Linked DNA regions of Homo sapiens. The protein of the gene in region 4 purifies or fractionates together with the protein of the main gene of each other region. This does not show direct contact. Each region holds a gene or a part of one and is shown on either strand. Other genes may lie near its edges.

Region 1 (4,664 bases), on a different chromosome or scaffold from region 4:
AAAAAGATGTTGCATCAGACCCAGGGACCTCAAACACATGGGCTGGCCAGGTTGTGGAGCCCGCTGATTGGCCACGGACAGATGGGGGGATGGTCTCGGCAGGGACTTTGAGATCTGCTTCAGATCTTCCCTGGGGCAGTTTGGAGGGTAGAAGGCAGACTCTGTGGCTCTGTGCAGCCTTGGCTGAGTTACTGCAACTGAACCTCGGCTGCCTCACATTTGTACTAGGCACAGTGGGAAGGCGGCGGGAGGTGCGTGCTGCGGCGCCAGAACAGTGTTTGCTGGTGCTTCTGCCCTCCAACGGCAGAGGGCGGAAAGGGACAGGGACTCTGCACCTCATCACATACCTGGTGTTTTCAGGGCGGCGGGGCTGGGGACGGGACACTTCCTTGCTGCCGTGAGCGGGGCCCACACGCGTCCCAGCTTGGAGCCAGCGCACGGCCACGGCCACACGCGCTCGGAAAGCGAGGCCGGCGAGAAGGAACACAGAAGGCCAGCGCTAACTGCGCCCCAGTTTCTTTTTATTGATTTCTTTTCTTTTCTTTTTTTAAGTATGGAGGCTCAAGTATAAGATGTAGATTTTTTTCTTAAGCTTTACAAAAAAACAAAATAAAACAAAAACCTCCTTTTGCATTCCATAGAAATTGACAGAAAAGCACCTGGCCGGAAGAGCGGAACGGTCGGCGGCACCCCCCCCAGCCCCCACCCCGCGGCCTCCGTGGGACGGGAGAGTCTGCGCAGGACGGCACCGAGGGCCACCTCTGCTCCCAGAGCTGTCCCCTGTCCCCACGACCCCCAACCCCAAGCAACTCCCAAACACACACGGAATAAGATTTCCAGTTTTTCTTCTCTCTTTCACACACCACAGTTAGTTCATAAAATTTTTTTGTTTTACATTTTTTACACCAATGTACCAAAAAGGTGGGAGGGAAGGGAGGCTGGCAGACAGTGGATTTTATGCCTATAAATGGGGGGACAGGGAGGAAGACGGGGGGCCCGGGTGAACAAAAACCACACGGTCTCTATGGAAATGTGGAGAGAACTGAGAGCGAGGTGTGGCAGAAGCAGGCTCGGAGCCGGAGGAGGGTGGCTATCGGCTTTATTCTCAGGGAGAGATGGCGCTGTGCGGTCAATGATGCAGCTGTTATGTGACCTGTCGGGGAGGGAAGGGACGAGGGAAGGGAGCAGAAAACGAGTTTTCTAAGAAAGGAATCTAACGAGTGCACGGCGTGTCTGGTTAGCATGAAACAGAGGTTTAGCATTGCTGCTTTCTCTTCAAAGCCTCCACCAGGTCATTCTTCAGAGCTTCTTGTTTTGATTTGTCTGCAAAAGTCTGCACAGACCTGCAAGGGAGGAAAGGCGTTATCAGCAGATTGAACAGGGACTGGTGAGGCGGTGGAGGCCTGGGGGCCACCATGCCAGTGCCTGGCTGATTTGCTGCATGGACCCGCTTCCTGGGGTGAGGCTCTGGGTCACTGGGCTGGGCATCTGCCCCTCTCAGAAAGGGGCAAAGGGGTACATGGCCGAGACCTGCACCCTCTGCACCTTGCCAGGCCCTGTGGGGGTGGCATATGGCTTACATGGACAGGTGCTCATCTCTGCCCCTGGCCACCGGTGACCCGGCCATAGTCCCTAGAACCCTAAGTTCACTCCTCTGTGTGTAGGTCCCTATGTCACCCTAAGCCACAAGGTGGCTTCTGGGCTTCCAAACACAATGGAACAAAGCCCCTCTGCTTCAGAACAGCTACCCTGGGTTGCTGGCTGGGGACTCAGGCCAGGGGCTAAGAGGGGAGGACTCCGGGGCCATGCGGGTTCCTCTATAAAAGCTTCTCCCTTGCCCAGGCCCTGCCCAGCAGAAGAGCCTCATTCCTCATCCCACAAGTGCAAGGTGCAGCGTTATCCCACCCTTGGGAGTGGGTAAGAACCAGTGTCTCTGCGTGTCTGAGCACACTGTGTTTATGGCCCACGCAGCAGGTGCTTTCAGGCCTCTGCTGTGAGGCACCATCCGCTGTTAACTTGGCCCAGAAAACCCCTCAGCCCGGATTGCAAAGGGCGGCACAGGACAGCCAAGTGCCCCTGGGATCCCTGCTGTCAAATTCTGGATTTGTGGGGAAACGTTCAGGGCGACCGCATTCACGTATGTGTGGGGACGCTCATCAACAAAGCCAGAAACAATGAAGGCTTATGGAGATTTCACAGTTTACAAAACGCCTTTCACATATATTATCTCATTTAATTTTCACGGGCATCCTGGGGAAGTCTCAACTATCAACCCGGCCGGATGTGGTGGCTCAAGCCTGTAATCCCAGCACTTTGGGAGGCCAAGGCAGGAGGATCATTTAAGGCCAGGAGTTCAAGACCAGCCTGGGCAACATAGTGAGACCCCATCTCTACAACGACAACAACAAAAAGCGAAGTCAAGGCTTAAAAAAGAAAAAAGCTATCAACCCAATTTACAGATGAGGAAACTGAGGCTCAGAGGAATGCCCCCCTAGCAATTCTTTAATCATTTTGTCAAATTTACCCAACATATTGGTTAGGCAAAGACTTCCTAAATGTAGGTTTTATAACAGTTTAGAAGCAGTGGAAAGAGTGGGTAGAGGGCTGCTCAAGAAGAGTGCTACGGAGAGTGCACTCAGCCGGACTCTCACGTTTGATTCACACCAGCCATGGGAAGGAAGAATCAGAAAAATCAATCCCCAGAAGCAAAAATGGGCAAATGGAAGTGAAGCAGGGCCCAGGAGAAGCAACAGCACCCAGACTGAGTTCTGGCTACCGAATCCCTACAAGTCACAGGAAGAGCCCTCAAAATACTCAGCAGGTGCCATAAGACAAGACCTGGAAGCAAGCTGCATACAACTGAAAAAACTCCCAGGAGAAACGCAGACATTTGGTTCATGCTGGGGAAATACACGTTTCTGAGTATCTTCCCAGGACTGTCCCTGGCTCTGCGGCGGCCAAAGGCATCAGCCCCCACGGCCCCCAGGCTCCAAATCTCAGCCGATTCCCCAGGGGCTTCTTGCCAAGCTCACAGCGGGAGGTCAACATGGCCAGCGGGAGATGCGGCGGGCAAAGCAGCAGCGCACAGGACCTCTAGCCTGGGTGGTCACTGGCTCTTCTGGGAAGGAAGAGCCAAGCCCGCCAGGTCTTGGCTGGATCACACGAAGGAGAAAGTTCCAGAGCTAGAATCATGTTAGACACAGGAAGTTAGAAGTGAAATGGTGGAAGGCGGAAGGAGCAGGGGGCTTATTTAAGGGACAATGCTTGGGAAGGTCACGGCCAAGCAACCTCGAATCAGCGCTTGGAGACAGTGCTCGACTCTGTGGGAGGGAGGAGTCATCTTGAGCAGACCTGGCTGCCAGGGTTTCTACGCCAGGACGCCCCCAGTGGGCGGCCAGGGAACTGCACCATCACGGTGTATCTTAAAAAGAGTTTTTTCTCAATGCCATGATGGAAATGCCTGATGGCCACACTGTGAGGCTGACCCGAGTCGTGGGCCTTAAGTTGGCACACACAGACCAGACTGGTGCACTTAAGTCCCACGGCCTCGGAAAAGCAGCTCCACCTGGTTTTCTAAGTGCCTGACCCCACCTCCACCTTGGAAAGTCTGCTGCACCCCTTCTGGGGTGGGCCTTCAGTGCGCAGCCCCTGGACCTGGGCTCTGCAGCCCCAGTTGGCAGGGTTCCAAATGCCTTCTTTTTACAAACAAGTTTCCCTCCTACTCTCCAGGGATGCTGCCTCCTTCCCTACATCTGGATCTGTCACAAGCTCAAGTCATGGTTCTTGGCCATTACCAACAAGCAAGACTATTTTCCTTTCCATTAGCGAAACCTGTTTAAAGGAACAGCTGCAGCTCGTTAGGGGCGGAAGGTTATGCTGGTTGTGGCCGAGTCGGCACTGGGCGTCCAGGCAGCTCCAGCAGAGCATCTGGGCCAGCCAGGGTGGAGTCCAGCCCTGACTCTGCCCTCCAACCCCAGAGACTCAGAGATCAGAGAGTGAGGTCACCCCTTCCAAGCCAGCTAGCCCTGGACAGGCAATGTGCCGCTGAGCAGCGGGGAGGCTTATGTGGCTTCTGGGATCCCTGCACCAGCATCAGAGGCTCCTCTGAAGCATGGGGGGGTGGACGGCAGGCAGATCCCTGCCCTGGGGACAGTCAGGCCGGTGCACACAAGTGGCTGCTGCTGGAGAGGCAGCATCCGTCCCTTGGCCTGGGCTTCTTCAGAAGCAAAAGCCAAAAAATCAGCCGTCTTCCCCACACCCAGCCTCCACCCAGAGTGGAAAGCACACACACGTGATAGGTGCCGTGTTACATGGGGCCGAGGCTACACGGGAATGTGGCTGTGCACCGACCGGGAGCACACGTGGGGGTTAGTGGTGGTTTAAATGGCCGCGGAGCAGCAGCCGGACCGGCAGGGTCTCGGCGGGTTGGTGAGTCCTGTTTTAGTGGGGAGGGTCTCGCGGCTCTCAGGCAGGGTACCTGGATCGGCTTAATTATCAGGCTGGATGTAGATCTGGCGCTGGGTCAGCACTTGAGAGAGCTCCCTCTGCAACTGCTTAAACTTTTGGTTGTCAGGGATAGCATCAATAGATCTACAGAGAGTGTTCAAGATGAGTGGAGTGGGAGGGAAGAGAACGACGAGAAGCCAGGAACGCAGGGGGCCACA
Region 2 (8,310 bases), on a different chromosome or scaffold from region 4:
GGGAGGTGTGGAGGTCTGACGGGAGAAGATGCTAAAACATTGCCTGGGAGAGTCATGGAGTGAATGGCAGGGGGAGTGCCGTGGGATTCTGGGCAGCTCTAGGGCCGGCTTGAGGTCAGCAGTGAATCTGGAGTGAGACCAGCTGTCACGATTGTGTGTTTTTATCCAGCCACATGCAGCTACTCAGGTGCTGGGCTAGGATTGGCCCAGCTGTATTGGAGAGCTGTATTTAAACAGGTTAAACAGTATGATGAAGCAGATGAGGGAGTTGAGTGTTGAGTAAAAAGTGACGTTAATGGTGATAAGAAGAGAGGTGAGGGTATGAGGGGAGTGGGGGACAATGAGAAAGAATTAGGGTTAAGGGGCTGTGCTATGAGAGGGGCTGAAAATAAGGGCGTTGGGGAAATAGAGTGAGCCGGTCAGATAGGCGGTGGGGGTGGGCAAGTGGGATACTTGGGATTGAGATGATGCAGAGGTTGCAGCCACTGGTAAGGATGAGGTCTAGGGTGTGACCTTGAGAGGATGGGTCGCACAGTCACTGAGGAAGAGGAGGTCAACGAACCAGAGGCTGGAAGGGTCGCATCTGGCTATGGAGATGACTGTAAGCTATCACAACAATGATGGAGAGGGTTGCAGTGATGCAGCGGTTATGGTTTTCAAGGAATGATGGGTGCGTAAGGGTCAATAACAAGAAAGAATTGTGGGTGCTGTAGTTTAAGGGCACGAGCTTTGACATTAGAACGTTGCAGAGGGGAGTGAGCATGGAGGGAACAGAAGGGACCTTGAGAAGCAAGCAGGACCCTTTATTTTGCCCAGGCCTAGTAGGTGATGATGTGGGAGAATTAACGACATGGGAGAGGGCGGCCAGGGAAGTGTGACCTCTGCAGAGGGCAAAGGTCAGATGGAGCCAGAGTCACTTCATTGTCTGGGGACAGGTGGAGTGCCAGGTGCTTGGTGCCTTGTTTGTCCCCCTCTTCTCTCCACGTCCTCCCCACTCTCTGCCGCCATCATCCCATGAGTCCTATGCCGAGGGGCCAGTGCACACATTTCCCTTCACCCTCACCTAACTGGGAGATGAGCATTGTTGCCACCAGCCCTAATGTACAGATGGGGAAGCTGAGGCTCAGAGAGACCAAGTGTCTGCCATATGTGAGGGAGGGCACATGCTGGTAAGAGGCAGTGCTGGGACGGCTCAAGCCAGGCGCTGTCACACCCCCCAGTGCCTTTTGCCTGGGTCCCATAGCCTTCCTGCTTCCTTGGCACCTTCTGTGCCATGAGGGGCACCCCCTGCACGCTGTAGCCACTCCCCCGAGCTGCTCTGTAGCTGCACTGCACCTCGAATCCTGCTTGGACGCGAAACCCTCTCTCCCCTCACGACTCCCACATGCTGAGGTGCTTCAAGAGCCAGATTCACAATGTTCCTTTTCCCTTTATAAAGCAGGTGTTATGGACCCCGAACTGTGGCCTCTGAGGAGATCCTCACATGAGCTTTGGGTTGAGTGGGTGAGGGGTTCCAACCACCTGAGACGAAAGGAATTATGCTTTGTGAATAAGGATAGGCGCATTCTGGGGAAGAAGGTCTAAAGGGGGCTCTGTGAGAAGTCCTGCCTTGAGTCGTCTGTGGGGCCCCTCCCAGCTATCCCAAGAGGACCCCCTCGGGTTCCAGTTGCCTCCTCCCAGCCTGGGAGAAGCTGACCTGGGGTCTGTGTGGGGTCGGAGGGGACCCTCCCCGCCCCGCTGAGAGGTGAGTGACGGATCTTGACCTTTCTTTCTCTTGCAGATTTCCAAGCCCTGGATTCCCTCAAGTCCAGCCCCCTCCTCAGAGAATGGAGGCCCTGCCAGCCCAGGCCTCCCCGCAGAAGCCTCAGGCTCAGGCCCTGGCTCTCCCCATCTTCACCCGCCTGATAAGAGTTCTCCCTGCCACTCACAGCTTCTGGAAGCCCAGACTCCTGAAGCTTCCCAGGCTTCTCCCTGCCCCGCTGTGACTCCATCAGCTCCAAGTGCAGCCCTGCCTGACGAGGGCTCCCGCCACACCCCCAGCCCGGGGCTCCCTGCCGAGGGGGCTCCAGAGGCCCCCAGACCCAGCAGCCCACCCCCTGAGGTCTTGGAGCCCCATAGCCTGGATCAGCCCCCTGCCACCTCACCCCGGCCCCTGATCGAGGTGGGTGAGTTGCTGGATCTCACTCGGACGTTTCCATCTGGCGGGGAGGAGGAGGCCAAGGGTGACGCACACCTCCGCCCCACCAGCCTGGTTCAGCGCCGATTCTCTGAAGGTGTGCTCCAGTCACCCAGTCAGGACCAGGAGAAGCTGGGGGGCTCGCTGGCTGCCCTGCCCCAAGGCCAGGGGAGCCAGTTGGCCCTGGATCGTCCCTTTGGGGCAGAGTCCAACTGGAGCTTATCACAGTCCTTCGAATGGACCTTCCCCACGAGGCCCTCGGGTCTGGGCGTGTGGCGGCTGGACTCCCCGCCTCCCTCCCCCATCACTGAAGCCAGTGAGGCCGCCGAGGCTGCTGAGGCTGGCAACTTGGCCGTTTCCAGCAGGGAAGAAGGAGTGTCTCAGCAGGGGCAAGGGGCTGGGTCAGCTCCAAGTGGGTCAGGAAGTTCCTGGGTGCAGGGGGATGATCCAAGCATGTCCCTCACCCAGAAGGGCGATGGGGAGAGTCAACCTCAATTCCCAGCTGTTCCCCTTGAGCCCCTGCCTACAACTGAGGGCACACCTGGATTACCTTTGCAGCAGGCAGAGGAGAGATACGAGTCGCAGGAGCCCTTGGCTGGACAGGAGTCCCCTCTCCCCCTGGCTACCAGGGAGGCAGCCTTGCCCATCCTGGAGCCAGTCCTGGGGCAGGAGCAGCCAGCAGCCCCTGACCAGCCCTGTGTTCTCTTTGCTGATGCCCCTGAGCCTGGACAGGCACTGCCTGTTGAGGAGGAGGCCGTGACCCTAGCCCGGGCTGAGACCACCCAAGCCAGGACAGAGGCTCAAGACTTGTGTAGGGCATCCCCCGAGCCTCCAGGCCCTGAAAGCAGCTCCCGCTGGCTGGACGACCTCCTGGCTTCACCACCACCCAGTGGTGGCGGTGCAAGGCGGGGAGCTGGAGCTGAGCTGAAGGACACACAGTCCCCAAGTACCTGCTCTGAGGTGAGAATGGGCATAGGGAGAATGGGACTTCTGGGGACAGAGGCCAGGGCTTGGGTGGGCTTCATTCTTTGAACATGGATTTTACATGTCGAGAGCTTGGGCTGTGGTAGTGAGCAAGGCAGCTGTGGACCTGCAGATTGTAGCTCTGCAGAGCCACACAGGACGGTGTGTGTGTGGGGTTTCGTGTGAGGCTCTATCCCAGCTCCAGCAATCGCTAGCTGATTGGTCTTGGGAAGAACGTACCTTAACTGCTGGGCTTCAGAGTGCTTTCCTGATAGTAGCATTGGCCTCTTAGAGTTATATTGTGGGTAAATCGAGGTGGAAAGCTCTCGGCACAGTGCGTGGCAGGTGCTGAGTATTCAGTCTCTCATTATGGGAATATCGTTCAAGGCAAAATAGTGTAGCCATTTAGAGCGTGGGCTCCTGGGTTCATCTCCTGGCTCTGCTTTCCTTTGCCCAGGTGTGACCTTAAAAGAGTGACTTTTCTGCCCTCTGCCTCAGTTTCCACATCTGTAAAATGTGGATAACAAGATGAGTTCTACCTCCAAGGGTGTTGGCAAGGGTTCAATGAGCTGTAATGTCTAAAGTGCTAAGAATAGTGCCTGGCTCATCCTAAGTGCTTAAGAAGTGTTGGCTTTTACAAACGTTATTAACATTGAGCTCCAGACCTGCTTTGTAGACAGGCAGCTGGGCCTCAGAGGAGGTTAGCCTTGTGCAGTTATCCAGCAAGTTGGTGGCTGGGCCCGGGCCAGCGCCGTTTCCCGGCCCAGTGCCCTTTCTCCTACCAGGCTGCCTCTGAATTTAAGGGCCGGGGGCCAGGTGGCTTTCGAAATTTATTTCTCAAGCCGGGCCTGGGCTGCAAGGGGCGGGGCTGCAGGAAAGGAGGAGCCAGGGGGCCTCTGGGGGCTGCGGGGCGGGGAGAAGGAGGAGCAGGAAGGGGTTAAGCTGACTCCTGTAGTAGGTGTGTCTGTCCCGGGATGTGGGTGACTCAACTGGCTCCTGGGCGGGGCTGCCCAAGCTGCAGCTGCTCCGGAGGGAGCAGGGCCAGGGTGAGGGAGAGCCAGCGCCAGAGCCGTCGGACAGGTCCCAGCGCGGGTAGCAGCCCAGCTCTATCCCTGCGCCCGGCTGGCCGCACCCAGCAGCCCCAAGGCGGGTTGGGGGCGGGGGGCCATGGCCCAGCCTGGGGATGGGGAGGCCAGCATGTCTATCCTGGAGCGGCTGCTGGCCAACGCTGCGCTGAGGGATGAGGCTGGCCGGCTCCGAAGCCCTGAGCCCAGGGCTCTCCCGCCCACAAGGGTGAGTCAGGGAGCGTGAGGTGGGGGGTGGGGTGCAAGAAGCCCTGGCTGGGATTTTCCCCTGTGCCAGAGGCTGCCCCTCTTGTCTTTCCTGGGCCAGGGTGAGGGCTGAGAGGTCTTCCTGGGGAAGATTGAGCAGACGGCACTTTGGCTGGGGAAGAAGGGCCTGGGTACTTATAGGAGGATGGGGGTCAGATGGGGCATGGGGGAGGACGGGCTGGAAAAGCTGTCATTGGTGTTGGAACCTTGCCTTGCAAGGGAAGTCGCAGAGAGGCTTTGAATCTTGACCTCTCCTAATCAAAAGGAAAGTGCACTGCCTGCCATTCCTGTGTGAAGACCACTCCTCTCCTGGCTGTTAGCCAAGTATTGCCCAAGAGTTGTAAACATGACCATGGGACCATCGATTGAGTGCCCACTGCATGCCAAGCACTATGCTGAGTGCTTGGTCTAAATGATCTCATTTAATCCTCTCACACCAGCCCCATGCAATAGGAATTATCCTCGTTTAAGGATGAGGACGCTGAGACCCAGAGTGGTTAAGTGATTTGCTCAAGGTCACACAGCTTTCTGTTGCCAAAGTGGGGCTTTCAGGCACTAGGCAGCGCTGACTCTGCTGGATTGACTCCCACCCTGATGGAATCTAATCGTTGTTTCTTTGTCTGTTTTTTTTTCTTATTCCCAGGGACTCCTTGGCTGGTCCCAGAAAGATCTGCAGAGTGAATTTGGGATCACAGGAGACCCACAGCCCAGCAGTTTCAGTCCTTCCAGCTGGTGTCAAGGTGCTTCTCAGGACTATGGCCTTGGGGGTGCAAGCCCTAGAGGAGACCCAGGTCTCGGAGAGAGGGACTGGACCAGCAAGTATGGGCAAGGAGCAGGGGAAGGGAGCACCAGGGAGTGGGCCAGCAGGTGTGGCATCGGCCAGGAGGAGATGGAGGCCAGCAGCAGCCAAGACCAGAGTAAAGTGTCTGCCCCAGGGGTGCTCACAGCCCAGGACCGGGTAGTTGGAAAGCCAGCCCAGCTTGGCACTCAGCGGAGCCAGGAGGCAGATGTTCAGGACTGGGAGTTCAGAAAGAGGGATTCCCAGGGCACTTACTCCAGCCGGGATGCAGAACTCCAGGACCAGGAATTCGGAAAGAGAGATTCACTGGGTACCTACAGTAGTCGAGATGTAAGCCTTGGGGACTGGGAATTTGGGAAGAGAGATTCTCTGGGTGCTTATGCCAGCCAAGATGCCAACGAGCAGGGCCAAGATTTGGGGAAGAGGGACCACCATGGTAGGTACAGCAGCCAGGATGCCGATGAGCAGGACTGGGAGTTTCAGAAGAGAGATGTGTCACTCGGCACCTATGGCAGCCGGGCTGCGGAGCCACAGGAACAGGAGTTTGGGAAGAGCGCTTGGATAAGGGACTACAGCAGTGGTGGCAGCTCCAGGACCCTTGACGCCCAGGACAGAAGCTTTGGAACGAGACCCCTGAGCTCTGGGTTCAGCCCCGAGGAAGCCCAGCAACAGGATGAGGAATTTGAGAAGAAGATTCCAAGTGTGGAAGACAGCCTTGGAGAGGGCAGCAGGGATGCTGGCCGGCCAGGAGAGAGAGGATCCGGGGGCTTGTTCAGTCCTAGCACTGCCCACGTGCCGGATGGGGCACTCGGGCAGAGAGACCAGAGCAGCTGGCAAAACAGTGATGCTAGCCAGGAGGTGGGAGGGCATCAGGAGAGACAGCAGGCAGGGGCTCAGGGCCCTGGCAGTGCTGACCTGGAAGATGGGGAGATGGGAAAGCGAGGCTGGGTCGGTGAGTTTAGCCTCAGTGTTGGCCCCCAGCGAGAGGCAGCATTTAGCCCAGGGCAGCAGGACTGGAGCCGGGACTTCTGCATCGAGGCCAGTGAGAGGAGCTATCAGTTTGGCATCATTGGCAACGACAGAGTGAGTGGTGCTGGCTTTAGCCCTTCTAGCAAGATGGAAGGTGGTCACTTTGTGCCTCCTGGGAAGACCACAGCTGGCTCGGTGGACTGGACTGACCAGCTGGGTCTCAGGAACTTGGAAGTGTCCAGCTGTGTGGGTTCTGGGGGCTCGAGCGAGGCCAGGGAGAGTGCCGTGGGACAGATGGGCTGGTCAGGTGGCCTGAGCTTGAGAGACATGAACCTGACCGGCTGTTTGGAAAGTGGAGGGTCTGAAGAGCCGGGGGGAATCGGAGTTGGGGAGAAGGACTGGACTTCTGATGTTAATGTGAAGAGCAAAGATTTGGCTGAGGTCGGGGAGGGAGGAGGCCACAGCCAGGCCAGAGAGAGTGGCGTGGGGCAGACTGACTGGTCAGGTGTGGAGGCCGGAGAGTTCCTTAAATCAAGGGAGCGTGGAGTTGGACAGGCAGACTGGACACCTGACCTTGGGCTGAGAAACATGGCCCCAGGGGCAGTCTGCAGTCCTGGAGAGTCCAAAGAGCTTGGGGTGGGCCAGATGGACTGGGGTAACAATCTGGGCCTGAGGGATTTGGAGGTGACCTGTGACCCAGACTCTGGAGGTTCTCAGGGGCTACGGGGATGTGGAGTGGGGCAGATGGACTGGACCCAGGACTTGGCGCCCCAGAATGTGGAGCTCTTTGGGGCTCCAAGTGAAGCCAGGGAGCATGGGGTGGGCGGGGTGAGCCAGTGCCCAGAGCCCGGCCTGAGGCACAATGGCAGCTTGTCTCCTGGCCTGGAGGCCAGAGACCCCTTGGAGGCCAGGGAGCTGGGGGTTGGTGAGACAAGTGGGCCAGAGACCCAGGGTGAAGATTACTCCTCGTCTTCCTTGGAGCCACACCCTGCAGACCCTGGAATGGAGACAGGAGAAGCCCTCAGCTTCGGAGCAAGGTAATGAACGGAGCCCCATCCCAAGTGTGGGAGGGAACATGTGAAGGCTGTCCAAGAAATCGGAACCTTTCTGAGGAGGGAAGAAACAGTTTTTCCTGAGGACTTTTAGTGTTTGGGTAATTGAGACATTTTGGACTAAGAATTTTTAGTTCTACTTAAAAATAATTGAAATATGATACACATACAGGTGAGTTCCTTTTTTGAAGGATGACTAATGTGTTACTTTTGCAACCCATGTTTGAGCTTGGTGATTTGGAATTGTGACTGTGACGGGGGAAATGGTGCATGTCATAGCTTGGATGGTTTCTGATGGGTTCTACTCTTGTACACAGTAGCCGTTCCCCAGGCCTCTCAGCCCTGAAGCCACAGGTGGTTTCATAGGTATAGGGCAGAGAATTCCGTGTCTTCTTGGCTGGGGCCACCACAGCCAGGAGTGGAGTGGACAGTGGAACCCACGGGTTCTCAAAGAGGTTAGGTACTTGGTGCTTCTTGCCTGTCCTGTCTTGAAGCCTGGAATAGCAAGTTCAAGAACCTGAAGGGTATGGGGACCTGGCCCCATGACCTTGGCCTCTGTGCAAATTTGCTGAAAGAACTTTCCAAAGGCTTTGCAAGGCAAGCACAGTCTGTTTCATGGATGTTTTAAAACCAGCTGAGATGGTTTTGCAGCTGAGAAACGTGCTAAAAAGGCATTGCATCCGTTTTGTTAACATTTCCATCCATTGAGATTCGCTTTTATTCCCTTTAGTGAGCAGAAAATGTTACCTTTTCCAGCCCCACAGTGGGAGCTTCTCACTGGGTATGTGGGGAAGGCAAGGGAAGTGTGGGGCAGGGGCTTTTATAAGTGGAAGGGGTTGGTGGTGGGAGGAGAGGAGCAGGAAGGGGCTAGAGCATATCATGGTGGTCTTGGGGACTCTGGAGAGGCATTTGGGATGGAGGAGGAGAAGGGAGAGAGGAAGATGGGCCCAGTGAGATGCCCAGGGGGATTTGAGGAAGTGGAGCTTCCTGACGACTCAGGCTGTTGACGGGGTGGTGACG
Region 3 (8,310 bases), on a different chromosome or scaffold from region 4:
ACATATCTGATATGTTGTAGTTACTCAGTATACTTCTTGAATGAATGAATGTCATTGCCATTTTAAAATTAAAAATACAAATAAGCCAAAAGGAGAAATTAAGTCACCAGTCTTGCCACACAGACCTAACTACTAACATTCTTCTGAAGATGAGAGATAACTAGCCTCCTGCCTCTGGTCCCTGAGTCTTCCTTCATGGGGAGGGTTCATTGTAGGGACTGTGGCCATGGGACAACCTTGCTGGTAAAGCCAGCTGTTGAAGAGCCAGAAATATTGATAGTAGGCTTGCCAGGAAAATTCCTTTGAAAGTGGCACTACTTGCTGGCTCTCAAATTACTATCCTCTGTAATAAGGGTCAGATTTAAAATTACATACTCAGGGACAAAATATAAACTTATGTTTGGATTAAACTTTTTCTACCTGTTTAAAAAGACAAGTTAGAATACCTATGTTGTGTATGCCTAGAACTTAGAAAATTATAATGTACAAGAATCTTTTCTGTTGTGTTTTTTGTAAGTGGTCTTGTGAGTTAATAAAGAAGCAATGTGATTGGATGGGAAGAACAGCGGATTGGGAGTCTACAATGTCAAATATTAGACCTAACTAATCACACACTAAGCTAAAGATTATGTTTACTCACTTTGAGTCTCTGTTTCCACATCAGTTAAACAAGGAACCACACTAGACAGTCTTTCAGCCCTCCCATGGTAGTATAAGGCATAAACCTCAATTTCGTTATGCTTCTCAAGGACCACTCTACTTTTCTGTGTTGTTAAGAGTTGAGGGGCTGCCTTTCTAAGATTCTAGGAACCAAATTCTAGGGTAGTTTTCTAAGATTCTAGGAACCAAAAGTTAGCAAGTGAAGAGGAAACAGAATACTTTTGAATTTGCCCAGCTGTGCTTTTTATAGGAAGAGCCATTTCTAGTCAGAGGATTTCAGAACATTTCAAAACTCTGTGGTGATATACTGGTTACATTCTTCCTTAGACTAAAATTACAACCTGAATGCACTTAATGATACATATGTGTATTGTAATTTGTAAACATAACTCAAAACCCTGTATCTGAGTGAGGTCATTTGTGGTTAGCCATTCAGACTTCATTTCTATTTGACAAGGGTTTATTTTAAGATTGCTTTGTGGAGCAGTTGTTTAACATTCAAGTGATCTATTAGTATTAAGTCTTTAACCAGACTTGTTTTAAATGAGCTGTCTGTGAAGTAGAAAACCAAATATTATAGAAACTTAGATTTCCAATCCAACTTAGCGAAATCAATGTAACTTAAACGTTGTCTTCACATATGTTTGTTTAACCTGTTTTTTTTCCTTCAGTATTCCTTTAGAAGAATAGTAACTGTGTGAATAAAACTTTTTAGTTACTCTTGATACTATGGTTTAGCAAGAACTGTAGACTTAATTGGTTGAGAAAAGAACATTTAAAGTAAATGAATGCTTTAGTAAGTTAATTATTTCTTAGCATATCACAAATATATGTAGAAAGAATAAGATCTCATTCTATAGCTTTATTCCTAGGTTATTAAAAGCAAACTTCTATGGAAGTTAGTTCTCATTAGGCTATATATATATAGTGTGTGTGTGTGTGTGTGTGTGTATTTATCTATACATATATACATACATACATACATACAGGCTATGTATTGTAATCCATTGGTTATTTTGTTGGGGATGTGGGTCAATTGGATGAAAGCTAAAGATGACTTATGTAAATAGCCAAACTGTGTTTCAGAATTGTTTTATACATCAATCTAATTCTTACCATTAGTACCGTGGCTTCCTCTCCTCTTTCCTGGTGTCCAGATTGTCACAGCTAAAGGGCATTTCTTCCTATTTAGCAAATATAACCATTATCAATGTTTAAAATGAGATTTTCGGCCCCTTCCCTTTTGTGTTATAGGTGCTCCATACTTGCTTGCAGTGCCTACGTGGCTCTGGCTTTGGGTGATAACCTCATGGCTTTGAATCATGCAGATAAACTTCTTCAGCAGCCCAAGCTGTCAGGATCTCTTAAGTAAGTGTGACTTGCCCTGTGTGTCCCTGGTTTCTTTAGTTTTGAGGTTTCTCCTTGGTTTGTGGTTTATGTTGCTTCTTTTGACTCCTCCAGTGGAATATATATTTGTAAGGAAAGCAACTGTTTAAAAGAACGTTTTTTAACCCATGCCTCGGCAGTGAAAATGTTTTCACTTGTGCTGTACTGAGCGTTAGGAGACAAAAACTTCGGACTCTAGTGTCCACTTCTAGGCTTCACTGCAGCACTTTAATTCTCCAAATAAGTCAAGTCCTCAGAGAGAAGACCTACAAAAAAAGGAGTGTGGTCAATGTGATAAATCTACTTTGAGGGACCAGGCACGGTGGCTCACGCCTGTAATCCCAGCACTTTGGGAGGCCGAGGCAGGCAAATCACGAGGTCAGGAGTTCAAGACCAGCCTGGCCAACATGGTGAAACCCTGCCTCTACTAAAAATACAAAAAATTAGCTGGGCGTAGTGGCGGGCACCTGTAATCCCAGCTACTCAGGAGGCTGAGGCAGGAGAATCGCTTGAACCCAGGAGTCAGAGGTTGCAGTGAGATCTCTGCACCACTGCACTCCAGTCTAGGCTACAGAGCAAGACTCTGTCTCAAAAAAAAAAAAAATAGACAAGAATTTGAAAAATCTTTCCAAGCTACTGTATCATTCCAGAATCAGCTAGTTTTAGTCAAACTGCAAATACTTCTTCATTAATATCATTGTCATTCTAAAATTTTCCAAAGCACATTATCTTTTCTTTTACCAAAATTGAGTAAAATACAGGCCAGGTGTGGTGGCTCATGCCTGTAATCCCAGCACTTTGGGAGGCTGAGGTAGGCAGATCATTTGAGGTCGGGAGTCTGAGACCAGCCCAGCCAACGTGGTAAAACCCCATCTCTACTAAAAATACAAAAATTAGCCAGGCATGGTGGCAGGCATCCATAATTCCAGCTACTCGGGAAGTTGAAACAGGAGAATCACTTGAGCCTGGGGGGCGGACGTTGCGGTGAGCCACGGTTGCACCATTGCACTCCAGGCGGAGTGACACAGCAAGACTCCCTCTCAAAAAATAAAAATAAAATACAGCTTGAATTTTTGTATGGTGCTGATCCTGGAAATTTTATCAAAAGCCACGAGTATTCTGCACAACATTAGAACAGTTCTTTCATTCATCGTATAGGTGTATACTTACAAATGCCAAAATATAACTACTTACTCTTTGGCTTTTTAGTGATCCCCAAACATACCTAGTGTTTTTGTTTTTTTTTTAAGTAATTAAGGCCAGGCGCTGTGGCTCACACCTGTAATCCCAGCACTTTGGGAGGCCTACCTGGGCAAATCATTTGAGGTCAGGAGTTGGAGACCAGCCCTGCCAATATGGTGAAACCCCATCTCTACTGAAAATATGAAAATTAGCCGGGCATGGGGGCACACTCCTGTAATCCCAGCTACTCGGGAGGCTGAGGCACGAGAATTGCTTGAGCCTGGGAGGCAGAAGCTGCAGTGAGCCAAGATTGTACCACTGCATTCCAAACTGGGTGACAGAGTGAGACTCCATCTCAAAAAAAAGTAATAAATCATTCAACTATATAAGAGACTTTGTCACAATTCAAATATAAGGGAGCTCCTGCTCTTCTGCAAGAAAATCTTGTCCAATATTCAGGCCTGGAGATGGGGAAGATCCTAATTTTCAGTTCAAGGCATTTGGGTTGCCTCTAAAGTACCTTCCGTCCTTATCATTGCCCAACTCAAAATGCCAATGTTGGGAATTGCAGCTGATGCTGGTGTTCAGATTGTGGTGTATACGGCCATTATGAGAGAACTGGACTTTGTGTGTTTGTGTGTGACTGAGTCTGTCTGGGTCACCCACACTAGAGTGCAGTAGCACAATCTCAACTCACTGCAACCTCCACTGTCTGGGTTCAGGCGATTCTCCTGCCTCAGCCTCCCGAGTAGCTGGGATTACAGGAGCCCACCACCACACCCGGCTAATTTTTTTTCTTTTTCTGAGACAGTTTCACTCTGTTGCCCAGGCTGGAGTGCAGTGGCATGATCTCAGCTCACTGCAACCTCTGCCTCCCCAGTTCAAGGGATTCTCCTGCCTCAGCCTCCTGCGTAGCTGGGATTACAGGTGCACGCCACTATGCCCTACTAATTTCTTTTTTTTTTTTTTTTCTTTTTTTGAAACGGAGTTTCACAGGCATGAGCCACCGCACCTGGCTACTTTTTGTATTTGCTCTTATTGCCCAGGCTGGAGTGCAATGGCGTGATCTCGGCTCATCACAGCTTCCATCTCCCGGGTTCAAGCGATTCTCCTGCCTCAGCCTCCCAAGTAGCTGGGATTACAGGCATGCACCACCACGCCCGGCTAATTTTGTATTTTTAGTAGAGATGGGGTTTCTCCATGTTGGTCAGGCTGGTCTCGAACTCCCGACCTCAGGTGATCTGCCATCTTGGCCTCCCAAAGTGCTGGGATTACAGGCATGAGCCACCATGCTCAACCTGGAGAGTTTTAAAACTATAAAAGTTTAGTTTGTGGTGGTGTTGTTCTTGTGTAGAAAGTCATTAAGATTTTGAGCAGATCAAAAGGTCCCCAGTTAAAAAAAAAAAAAAAAGCTGGGCATGGTGGCTCACGCCTGTAATACCAACACTTTGGGAGGCCAAGACGGGCGGATCACGAGATCAGGAGATCGATCTTAATTTTTATTTTTATTTTTTTTGAGATGGCGTCTCACTCTGTCATTCAGGCTGAGGTGCAGTGGCATGATCACTGCTCACTGCAGCCTCAGTCTCCCATGCTTAAGTGATTCTCCCACCTCAGCCTCCTGAGTAGCTGAGACTACAGGTGTATGCCACCACGCCCAGCTAATTTTTGTATTTTTTTTGTAGAGACAGGGTTTTGCCATGTTGCCCACGCTGTTCTCAAACTCCTGGACTCAGCAGTCCACCCACCTAGGCTTCTTGAAGTGTTGAGATTAAAGGCATGAGCCACTACACCCAGGCAGTTGATTCGTTTTACCTAAATAAATTTAGATTTCAATTTAAGGACATGAAATATGAGACCTATATCCAATGTATAATAACATAATATACCCAGCATTATTTTACATTGGGTATTTTTGTGACGTTGTACTTTTCAGTTTGGAATCTGTTTTTTCATTTTAGGTTTTTGGGACATTTATATGCTGCAGAAGCCCTCATCTCTCTCGACAGAATATCTGATGCCATTACTCACTTGAACCCGGAGAATGTCACTGATGTCTCCTTAGGGATCTCTTCAAATGAGCAGGACCAAGGTTAATGAGGACATCTTTGATCAGAACTGGTCACTGTTTCCATTTCCCTCCTGTCATAATTCAGGATGTGTGGAAATTTAGGCATGGTGGTAATGAGAAGAAAGTTTTAGGTTGGCTTTCCACATTTTTGTCTGTACTTACTTTGTAGCAGTTGTTTGCTAAGTAGACCTGAGAGTTAATGATCACATCATCTAAATTCTCACTTTTGAAAGGCTGGTACTGTTAGAATGGTTAATTTTGGTTCTGATACTATTTATTTGTTTTCCTTTGGAGTGATTCTAAAATCCATAGGGGAGTAAAAATATTGCATTCAAGAGTCAGTTTTAGTCCAGGCGTGGTGGCTCACGCCTGTAATCCCAGCACTTTGGGAGGCTGTAGCAGGAGGGTCACTTGAGCCCAAGAGTTCAAGACCAGCCTGGGCAACCTGGTGAGACCCTGTCTCTATTTTAAAAATAAGGAAAGAAAAAAAAGTTTGTTTTAAGTCATTGCTAAATTTCTAAATAATTGTCGGGTGCGGTGGCTCACACCTGTAATCCCAACACTTTGGGAGGCCGAGGCAGGTGGATCACCTGAGGTCAGGAGTTCAAGACCAGCCTGGCCAACATAGTGAAACCCCGTCTCTACCAAAAATACAAAATTAGTAGGGCGTGGTGGTGCAAGCCTGTAATCTCACCTACTCAGGAGGCTGAGACAGGAGAATCGCTTGCACCTGAGAGGTGGAGGTTGCAGTGAGCCAAGATCACGCCACTGCACTCCAGCCTGGGTGACAGAGCAAGACTCTGTCTGAAGAAAAAAAAAAAATTAAATAATTAAAGCTATGTGACATTCATTTTACTCAAGACTAGTGCTCAGGTTTGAGATGGTGGTGGGTGGTAGCATTCTGGCATTTTTTAATGGAATCTCCACTACATGAAAAGTAAATAAATTGCTTTATATTAAATTTCCATTTCATAAAGAAAGTTAGGTTTTTAGAAAATATGCTCTCAGCTGGCCACAGTGGCTCACACCTGTAATCCCAGCACTTTGGGAGGCTGTGGTGGGTGGATCACCTAAGGTCAGGAGTTCAAGACCAGCCTGACCAACATGGTGAAACCCTGTCTCTACTAAAAATACAAAATTAGCCAGGCATGGTGGTATGCCCCTGTAATCCCAGCTACTCAGGAGGCTGAGGCCAGAGAATCACTTGAACTCAAGAGGCGGAGGTTGCAGTGAGTCGTGCCATTGCACTCCAGCCTGGGCGGCAACAAGAGCAAAACTCCATCTCCAAAAAAAAAACCAGCCTGACCAACATGGTGAAACCCCGTCTCTACTAAAAATACAAAAACTAGCCAGGGATGGTGGCACATGCCTGTAATCCCAGCTACTCAGGAGGCTGAGGCAGGAGAATCGCTTGAATCCAGGAGGCGGAGGTTGCAGTGAGCCGAGATCATGCCCCTGCACTCCAGCCTGGGCAACAGAGCGAGGCTCCATCTCAAAAAAAAAAAAAAGAAAAGAAAAGAAAATATGCCCTCTACCTTCTGAGCCCGAGGAGAAAAGAAAGAAAATATGCTCTGTTGTTCTGCCCCTCAGATTTATTTTCGTGTTTTTGTAGGATCAGACAAAGGTGAAAATGAAGCAATGGAATCCTGTAAGTAAGAAGTTTTGTGATACTTAAGTAGCCTGGCCTGCATCCCAAAAATTTAGATTCTAAATCTTCTGTGTTCGTTTTTCTGCCTGAGGAATACTGCTGTGCCAAGTGGCTCCTCAAGGCGATAGATTGGGTTGCTTCCTTGCTGTTGGCACGGCCTCTTCACCAGTGTCTACACTCTTTTTCCCCAGCTGGTAAGCGGGCCCCTCAGTGCTACCCCAGTTCCGTCAACTCTGCCAGGACTGTGATGCTGTTCAACCTTGGCAGCGCTTACTGCCTGAGGAGCGAATATGACAAAGCCCGAAAGTGTCTCCACCAGGTGAGTCCAGAGTGGGAGGAACTGAACCTTGTAAAGCAGCCAACACAAGTTTGAGGTTTATATTTTTTGTTACTTTGTTTGAAGCATCTGATCAGTTTGTTAAATATTGGAATATCACTTTCCCAGATATAAAAATATTCTTGCAAGGTAAACAACTAATCAGCATTGTAAATGAACCTAGACACTTAAAGGAAAGTTCTTCTTGATGATTTTATTTTAAAAAAAATTTTTTTTTGCCAGGCACAGTGGCTCATGCCTCCCAGCACTTTGGGAGGCCGAGGCAGGCGGATCATGAGGTCAGGAGTTTGAGACCAGCCTGGCCAATATGGTGAAACCCCATCTCTACTAAAAATACAAAAATTAGCCAGGTTGGTGGCACGCACCTGTAGTCCCAGCTACTCGGGAGGCTGAAGCAGGAGAATCGCTTGAATCCGGGAGGCGGAGGTTGCAGTGAGCCAAGATTGTGCCACTGTACTCCAGCCTGGGCAACAGAGCGAGACTCCGTCTCAAAAAAAAAAAAAGATGTTTAAATTTCAAATCAGCAGAATAAAAAGCAACTTGGGGCCGGGCACAGTGGCTCACATCTGTAATCCCACACTCTGGGAGGCTGAGACAGGCAGATCACTTGAGTCCAGGGGTTTGAGACCAGCCTGGGCAACATAATGAGACCCTGTCTCTACTAAAAATACCAAAAATTAGCCAGGCATGGTGGTGCATTCCTGTAGTCCCAGATACTTAGGAGACAGAGGTAGGAGGATTACCTGAGCCTGGGAGGTTGAGGCTGTAGTCAGCCAAGATCATGCCACTGCACTCCAGCCTGGGCAACTGGAGTGAGACCCTGTCCCCCCAAAAAAAAAAGACAAAAGAAGTAAGTTGACAGTTTTAATTATTAAAATTCCAAAAGATGGAAAACTGTCTAAAAGATCACTTATATAAATAATAGTGCATCTGTACAGTTGAAGACAATGCAGCTATAAACTCTAGGTACTAAAATGGAAAGATGTCCAAGACATACTAAATGAAAACAGCAAGGTGTGAAACAGT
Region 4 (8,310 bases):
GTAGGCCTAACAATACCTTGCATCTCATTCAGCTGACCCAACCTAGAGACAGATGGTTTTCAGTCTCCAGTCTCATTCCTAGACAATTAAAAATTACTTTGAACTCACTTTTCGATTTCTGGGGCACAGTGTACAAATTCATGGTTCCAGAACTTAAACGCTGGGTTTTTAATCAGCTCAATGAAGGTAATAAGAAGACCCCAAGGATGTGGCCTATTTACAATCAACCGTTCCAAGAGAACTCTGGAAAAAGGGAGAAAGAGCTAGTTAATGTATAGAAGCATACAAATTCATGATTATTCTTCCATTACTTTTTTTCTAACTTCTCCCTGACTATTGAACCACATGCAAAAGTTTTCACCTTTAGTAAAGACAGGTGGATTAATATACTCCAAATAGCACAGGTTGGAATACCTGGGTTTGAACCCTGCTCTTAGCCGTAGAAGACTAAGTATTTATATAAAGTGCAGATAATGGTATCTACCTCACAGCTGTTCAGAATAAGGGGTGATGGGGGAGAGGAAGCCACATAAAGCCCAGAGTACATGGCACACAAAGTTAGTACAAAAAGTAGTAATTTCCAGAATGAGCTCCCAGGCCGGGCACAGTGGCTCATGCCTGTAATCCAGCACTTTGGGAGGCCGAGGCAGGTGGATCACCTGAGGTCAGGAGTTCGAGACCAGCCTGGCCAACATGGTGAAACCCCATCTCTGCTACAAATATAAAAATTAGTCAGACATGGTGGCCACATGCCTGTAATCCCAGCAGTCGGACGCTGAGGCAGGAGAATCGCTTGAACCCAGTAGGTGGAGGTTGTGGTGAGCCGAGATGGTGCCACTGCACTCCAGCCTGGGAGACAGAGTGAGACCCTGTCTCAAATAAACAGATAAATTAAATAAATAAATAAGCTCACTCTCAATAAAAAGGAAACAGAAAATAAGAATTAAGTATTCTAACACTGCAGGCTGGGCACAGTGACTCACGCCTGTAATCCCAGCACTCTGGGAGGCCAAGACGGGTGGATCACGAGGTCGGGAGTTCAAGACCAGCCTGGCCAAGATGGTGAAACCCCGTCTCTACTAAAAATACAAAAAATTAGCCGGACGTGGTGGCAGGTGCCTGTAATCCCAGCTACTCAGGAGGCGACAAAGCGAGACTGTCTCAAAAAAAAAAAAAAAAAAAAAAAAAAAAAAGCTAACATTGCTAGTTCACATGTAAATTGGTAAAATTTTTCCGAATGCCAGTAAGCATTGGCTTAACTTTATATCCTTTCACGTACCAACTGTACATGAAGCATAACAAAGATTACAAGTCCAAGGAGACTTACTGCAGCTTTATATAAACAAAATGGATCATCATCATCTAAGCATCCAATAAGATATTAAATTTTAGTACACAAATCAAAGGAATACCATATTTAGCACCATAGGTGACTAATTAGGCAAATGAGCAAGTTTTAAGAGTCTGGCCCAATTTTTAAAGTGTGTGTGTGTGTGTATCACAATCTCTCTAATGCTATATGTAGTCTAGGCAATCTGGCAACAGATTCCTAACTATTGTTAGGAAAATGCAAGTATGATCCTGTTATTGCTACTGCTTTCAACCCAGAGGTAATGAGGAAAAGTCCAAGTTCCTTAACATAGACTTCATAGGCCTGCATGATTTAGGACTGGTTATCACCACCACCTCAGAGAAACTCCTGACCTTTAATCAAAATGTGCCTTGTGGTAAACTACTTTTCATTTAAGCCATGATTGCGATTTATAATTCCCTATCTTGTGATAAATGTCCATCAGAATGAGTATTAAGAGGGCAGGAACCATCCATTTTGCTCACAATTGTATCCCACATTTAACACATTATTGGACATGTAAAAGATTTTCACTGAAGGCCGGGTGCAGTGGCTCACGCCTGTAATCCCAGCACTTTGGGAGGCTGAGGCGGGTGGATCACTTGAGGTCAGGAGTTCAAGATCAGCCTGGCCAACATGGTGAAACCCCGTCTCTACTAAAATACAAAAATTAGCTGGGCGTGGTGGCAGGCGCCTGTAATCCCAGCTACTTGAGAGGCTAAGGCACGAGAATCGCTTGAACCTGGGAGGCGGAGGTTGCAGTGAGCCAAGATGGCGCCACTGTACTGCAGACTGAGTGACAGAGCAACACTCCGTCTCAAAAAAACAAAAAAAAAACCAACCAAACGGATTTTCACTGAACACTGAAAGCATAAAGAGGAAAAAAAAAAGATGAAAGGGAGGAGATCCTTTTGAAGCATTTAAAAAATAAGCTGCTCGCTTACCTTGTGATCTGTTCTTGGATGGCTTCCGTATTGGCCTCTGCAAAAAGGTACAGCATGGTGCAACTGAAGTAGTGAGTGTGGCTATTTGGGTACCGGAGCTGATTTGCAATTGCATTCAAAAAGAGATAGCGACCTAGAAATTAAGAAACCTTGACTTAGGACTTAGTCTGAAAGGCCAACATGGGAAGACAGTTCTAACTGGCTAGGGTTTGGGTTTCTGACAGAGGCTTTCAAATTAATCTTTGGTTTAAAGCAGTGGTTCTTGGGACCCCAAAGAGTTCTCATTTCTGTGCGTTTTATTTCAGAATTTTCCACATTAGAAATTAGATTTTAAAAATATTCATTTTTAAAAACAGACCCACTATGTGCTAATGTAAGAAACATGAACTATTTTCTGGTGACACTCATCACTAAGTCTTTCTACATTTTGCAGATCTCTAAGTCTTGCTTAATAAAAGACAGCTGGATTCTCATTTCTGCTTCTGTGTTCAACTTGTTACAGTATATTTCATGTAACCTCTGAGAAATTCAACTGTACACTCATGACAGAATAGACCCAAAAATGTAAATGTTGTTTTATGATGAAAACAGTTTTGGGCCGGGCACGGTGGCTCACGCCTGTAATCCCAGCACTTTGGGAGGCTGAGGCAAGTGGATCACTTGAGGTCAGGGGTTCAAGACCAGCGTGGCCAACATGGTGAAACCCCATCTCTACTAAAAATACATAAAAATTAGCTGGGCATGGTGGCGTGTGCCTGTAATCCCAGCTCCTCGGGAGGCTGAGGCAGGAGAATCGCTTGAACCCCTGAGGCGGAAGTTATGGTGAGCCGATATTGCGCCACTGCCTTCTAGCCTGGGTGTGAGAGCAAGACTCTATCGCAAAAAAAAAAAAAAAAAAAAGTTTTGACCTCACAGCCCTCCTAAAAAGGTCTTGACACCCTAAGGGTACCCAGCCCACATTTTGATTAGTCTAAACTACACTGGAATAAGTATTATCTTAATTGGGTTTGGTTGTTTGCCTCTGCTTGACATTATTCGTGTTTGTGAGTCTGTCACAGTGACACGTTTCTCTAAAGGCTGCCGTCCTTTTATTGCCGAGCTCTTGGACGTGATGGTATTCAATTTTGTTATATCTTGAATTTAAGCTGTCTTAAATCCATCCCACATATAGGCATGCAGCATATATGCAACATCAATTCATCTCTCAAGAATCAATAGCAAAGTTAAAGAGTAGTGTCCCCCTAAAATATATGTATGCAAAACTGGACAGGACTGTACAACTAGTTAGCACCTAACTGGGGTCTCTATTTTATAAGATAAATATAGAGGACCAAATGAAATGTAGCTCAAGCAGAAAAGCTGCAACCTGCAACAGGAGTTATACTGTGAGCTTTTTGCAGAACAGGAGAGTCCTATTCATTAATCTTTATACATGAACATTTAACAAGATGCCTGCCAAACACGCACCAATAAAAATGCTTATATAAGGCAGCCTAACAAAACAATGTAACAAGAGGCTATGTTTAAAGGGACTTTAAGTTTATTTTCACACTAAAAAACTTCAGTCACATACACCAAAACTGATACTGCACGATTCTGGATAATTCTTTCCTTTATGCTTTTTTGTATTTCCTGCACTGAGCAGATAATGTCCAATTAAAGATAAAATAATCAGCTAGACCTGTGAATAAATATACTGACAGAACATTCCTTCACTATTGTGGCTTGAAGCATTTTTACATTTTTGTGATCAGATTGTAGCAAAAAGCACAGAGAACTCTACTCTGAAAACTGGCAGGCTTCACTCACCCTCAGTGTCCAAGTCCACAGCCAAATTCTGGAAGATATCCATGTGTGCTGAGTGAGTGATGGTGCTCATTGAAGGTGTGCTGCCCTTGTTGTGGATGTGCGCAATGGCCTGAGTCCCGACATAGAGCACCAGTGCATTGATGAGCTGGAGGTTGTAGCGATTCCCAGGTTCATTGGATACCTTAAAATGAGCAAAACAGAACTCCTTATGCTTACTCCTGCAGAGGACCAATTCTAGCACCAGTATTTCTAAACCCTTCTTACACCTTCATGGAAAGGCCAAACATTTATTGTGATTCACTTGCTTGAATTTGTGAGGTTATTTAACAAACACACAGATGCTCCAAAGGTGGTTGTATCAATAAGAGAAATGTGATTTCCCTCAGGAAGCCGAAGCTCAAGGCACAGCTCTAAAGTAAAGTTTATAAAATCAAAATATGCACTGTGCCAATTAAAGATTTGGAGAGAAAGTTGTAGTTGCATGGCATATACAGACTGTAAATATATAACTTTCCAAAATATCCTATAGAGAAATGTAAATCAGCATCCAGGTATTCAGAAAAATCCTAGGAGTACCAACAGCTAATGACTGTCTGTGGTCTACTCTTCTAGTGCTGTCTTGTCCAAAGCTGTAGCAAAATATCACTGATTAAATGAACTAGTAAAATACGTAAATCCAGTTAATCAACCTCACCCAATTGATGGAAATGACAATAAAAGACTAACTCCCAAATGGACCACACACAGGACCATACATAGAAAGTGCTTTATATGGAAGACGTAGATGAGTTTTAAGCCAAACCAATTAACCTGTAGGTTGCTGCGCAGATCAGACAGGAAAGTGACTGGTGATCGAGTTTTAAGATAGGAATCCAAATCCTTTTTGAACTGAGGTGGCATTACTCCAGTGAAATTGGTGAGAATCCGGGGAGCAATGTTAATTTCACTCAACATGTCCACCTGCCACAGATAAAATGCAAGAATCACAAGCAGAATCATTTTTATTAGTAAATTACATCTATGCTTAAGTGGTGGGACTGTTTTTCTAAAACTATATACACTATAAATGCCTTGAAGAGCACAGCTGCCACATTTTATTAATCAGTCTTTCTTTCTTTAGAAGAATCTTGGTTCAAAATGATAAAAATTTCCCACTCTATAATGTATTTCCTTCCCAGAGGCAAGATACCTTTTGGGCAAAGGTCTAATTTGCACAACTAACTGATTTTTCTTGGACTTCGGTTTCAAAATAATAATCCGGAATAAGATTCCTCACTCACCAAGAGTCTTTGAAAAGAAGCCCCAGCAAGACCAGACATCACACTTACTCCTTAAAAAAAAAAAAAAAAAAAAAAAAAATTGAAGCCGGGCGCAGTGGCTCACGCCTGTAAACCCAGCACTTTGGGAGGCCGAGGTAGGCGGATCACCTGAGGTTGGGAGTTCAAGACCACCCTGACCAACATGGAGAAACCCCATCTCTACTAAAAATATAAAATTAGCTGGGTGTGGTGCCTGTAATCCCAGCTGCTCGGGAGTCTGAGGCAGGAGAATCGCCTGAACCCAGGAGGCAGAGGTTGCAGTGAGCCACAGCTCGCGCCATTGCGCTCCAGCCTGGGCAACAAGAACGAAACTCCGTCTCAAAAAAAAAAAAAAAAAAAAAAATGCATGTGTCAGAAAGAGTAGAGACTACATCTAAACTATAGCTGGGCACTTCTAGTGGTGTGCACCTCTAGTCACAGCTACTCTGGAGGCTGAGGCAGGAGGACGGCTTGAGCACAGGAGCCTGAGGCTGAAGTGCACTATGTTCACACCTGTGAATAGTCACTGCCCTTCAGCCTGGGCAAAACAACGAGACCCCTGTCTCTTAAACAAACTATAGTAGCCATGTCAGGGTGGTGAGATTTTAAGTGGTCCTCTCTCTCCTTTATTCCAACAACTTACAAAAAAATACAGTGGGTTCTCCATACCCTTAGGTTCCATATCTAATTAACCTCAAATCGAAAATATGGGGGGTGAAGGTAGAGGTAGATGATGGGGTCAATAAAAAATAATACAACAATAAAGGCCGGGTGCAGTGGCTCATGCCTGTAATCCCAGCATTTTGGGAGGCCAAGGCAGGCAGATCGTGAGGTCAGGAGTTTGAGACCAGCCTGGCCAACTAGTGAAACCCCGTCACTACTAAAAATACAAAAAAAAAAATTAGCCAGGCATGGTGGCGGGCACCTGTAGTACCAGCTACTTGGGAGGCTGAGGCAGGAGAATCACTGGACCCCAGGAGGCGGAAGTTGCAGTGAGCTGAGATTGCGCCACTGCACTCCAGCCTGGGTGACAGAGTGAGACTCTGTCTCAAAAATAAATAAATAAATACAAATAAATAATAATACAACAATAAAAAACACAAATTTTAAAAAGTTATTAATATAGTTTAAAATAGTTATTTCCATAATAGCATTACACTACATTAGGTATCATAAGCACTACAGATGTCATTTAAGGGGATATGCAAAGGTTATATGCCACTTTACATACAGGACTTAAGCATACTTAAAATTTGGTGTCCCAGTGGGTCCTAGAACCAATCCTCCAAGAATAGCAAGGGACCAAGGAACAACTGCACAAGTGCACAGACACAAAACTGTGAAATATGGAGACTATGGCAGGGCGTGGTGGCTCACACCTGTAATCCCAGCACTTTGGGAGGCCGAAGCAGGCAGATTACTTGAGGTGAGGAGCTCAAAACCAACCTGGCTGACATGGCGAAACCCCATCTCCACTAAACACATAATTAGCCAGGTGTGGTGGCGAGTGCCTGTAATCCCAGCTACTTGGGAGGCTGAGGCGGGAGAATAGCTTGAACCAGCGAAGGGGAGGTTGCAGTAAGCCGAGACTGCACCACTGCACTCCAGCCTGGGTCACAGAGTAAGACTCTGCCTCAAAAAAAGAAAAAGATTACAAAGGTCTGTTTGTTCTGCAATTCTTTGCCATGTGGGGCACACCCAGCAAATGACTGCCCCAACACCTAAGCTGTGGTTCTGTAAATAGAGCTAAATTTAATATCAAAATTAATATGAAAACTAGCAACTAGAAAAATGCTGTGAACCAATATTCACCAGCAACAGCAATAGCAACAATATCATACCTTCTATCAGGCTTAATAACATTATTTCCTTTAAAGAGTACCCTTAACTAATAGTGTGCGTGTTATGTTGGGTAGGAAAGTGCTGAACAGTCTACTTATCAGAGAAAGGACTGAAATATTAAGACATAAGTTTTCCTTTAACTAGTTGGAACCTTACCTTTAGATTAGGAGTGAATGGGTCGGGGAGCCTCATGTTTCTTGGAAAGGCACTCAGGATCAAATTTCTTAACTGGATACAATTAGGTGGGATCACATCACAGAACCCATAATGGTAATCACAAAGGAACTCTGGGAAATCATGCAAAAGAACCAGCAGCACTCTTAAAGTGCCCTATTTTTAAAAAACAAGAAAAATATTTCCACACTAAGGAAAATGGAGTAACATTTTCCTATTGTAACTTAAGCCCCCCACCCCCCTCAAAAGAATGAAGTATACTTTAGTAACATTTCTTAAAAAGTTTTAGGCTTTAATTAACATTATCACAGATGATTTATCAAATATTTCCATTTAGGTATCATGAAAAACTAGGCATCAAGAGTTTACAGGCTGAAATGAATATGCTAGAAGAGGAGACTGGACAAAAAATAAAAATACAATGATGTAAGCGTCTATCTTCAGAAGCTAAAAAAAAAAAAGAACTAATGAAAACCAAAGAAAGTAGAGTAAAAGCATATAATAAATTTTTTAAAGTACTGAAAAGGGAGAAAATCAGGGCCCAAGTTAGTTATTAGAAAAAATAAATTGATAAACCCTAACCAAGGCTGACAGAGAAAACACAAAAATTATTAATGTCAGGAATGACATTACAGATCCTACAGTCATAAAAAATAGTTTCAGAACATTAAACGACTTTATGCTCATAAATCTGACAATTCAGATCAGTGGAAATAGAACACCTTAGCACACTGAGACACGCAAAGATTTCCTACACAAGTCACAAAAAGCAACTTTTAATATAAGTTTAAAAATCTGCAATTTTGACTACAATAAATTTTAAAGCTTCTGATCCTCAAAAGACACCTCCCCCTTCCTTTAAGGGAGTAAAAGGGCAAGCTGTGAGAGTGGG

What was found.
Region 1: the proteins of CNOT1 (region 4) and CAPZB purify together in Homo sapiens (affinity purification with mass spectrometry; 5 studies listed by BioGRID and IntAct, with this or other methods). This does not show direct contact.
Region 2: the proteins of CNOT1 (region 4) and TNKS1BP1 purify together in Homo sapiens (affinity purification with mass spectrometry; 5 studies listed by BioGRID and IntAct, with this or other methods). This does not show direct contact.
Region 3: the proteins of CNOT1 (region 4) and CNOT10 purify together in Homo sapiens (affinity purification with mass spectrometry; 4 studies listed by BioGRID and IntAct, with this or other methods). This does not show direct contact.

What each region holds. Positions count from the first base shown.
Region 1 is NC_000001.11:19,338,275-19,342,938, forward strand, and holds the end of CAPZB (F-actin-capping protein subunit beta), read right to left. Parts: intron 4,591-4,664; coding exon of another isoform or gene 4,488-4,590; exon of another isoform or gene 4,478-4,487; intron 1,344-4,477; coding exon 1,256-1,343; 3' UTR 501-1,255; downstream 1-500. UniProt on the Homo sapiens protein: F-actin-capping proteins bind in a Ca(2+)-independent manner to the fast growing ends of actin filaments (barbed end) thereby blocking the exchange of subunits at these ends.
Region 2 is NC_000011.10:57,307,360-57,315,669, reverse strand, and holds part of TNKS1BP1 (182 kDa tankyrase-1-binding protein), read left to right. Parts: intron 1-1,780; coding exon 1,781-3,136; intron 3,137-4,151; exon of another isoform or gene 4,152-4,306; coding exon of another isoform or gene 4,307-4,432; intron 4,433-5,113; coding exon 5,114-7,275; intron 7,276-8,310.
Region 3 is NC_000003.12:32,757,544-32,765,853, forward strand, and holds part of CNOT10 (CCR4-NOT transcription complex subunit 10), read left to right. Parts: intron 1-1,914; coding exon 1,915-2,028; intron 2,029-5,189; coding exon 5,190-5,320; intron 5,321-6,911; coding exon 6,912-6,947; intron 6,948-7,138; coding exon 7,139-7,266; intron 7,267-7,506; exon of another isoform or gene 7,507-7,634; intron 7,635-8,310. UniProt on the Homo sapiens protein: Component of the CCR4-NOT complex which is one of the major cellular mRNA deadenylases and is linked to various cellular processes including bulk mRNA degradation, miRNA-mediated repression, translational repression during translational initiation and general transcription regulation.
Region 4 is NC_000016.10:58,521,075-58,529,384, forward strand, and holds part of CNOT1 (CCR4-NOT transcription complex subunit 1), read right to left. Parts: intron 7,575-8,310; coding exon 7,401-7,574; intron 7,032-7,400; exon of another isoform or gene 6,849-7,031; intron 5,065-6,848; coding exon 4,915-5,064; intron 4,286-4,914; coding exon 4,105-4,285; intron 2,769-4,104; exon of another isoform or gene 2,429-2,768; coding exon 2,296-2,428; exon of another isoform or gene 244-2,295; coding exon 109-243; exon of another isoform or gene 1-108.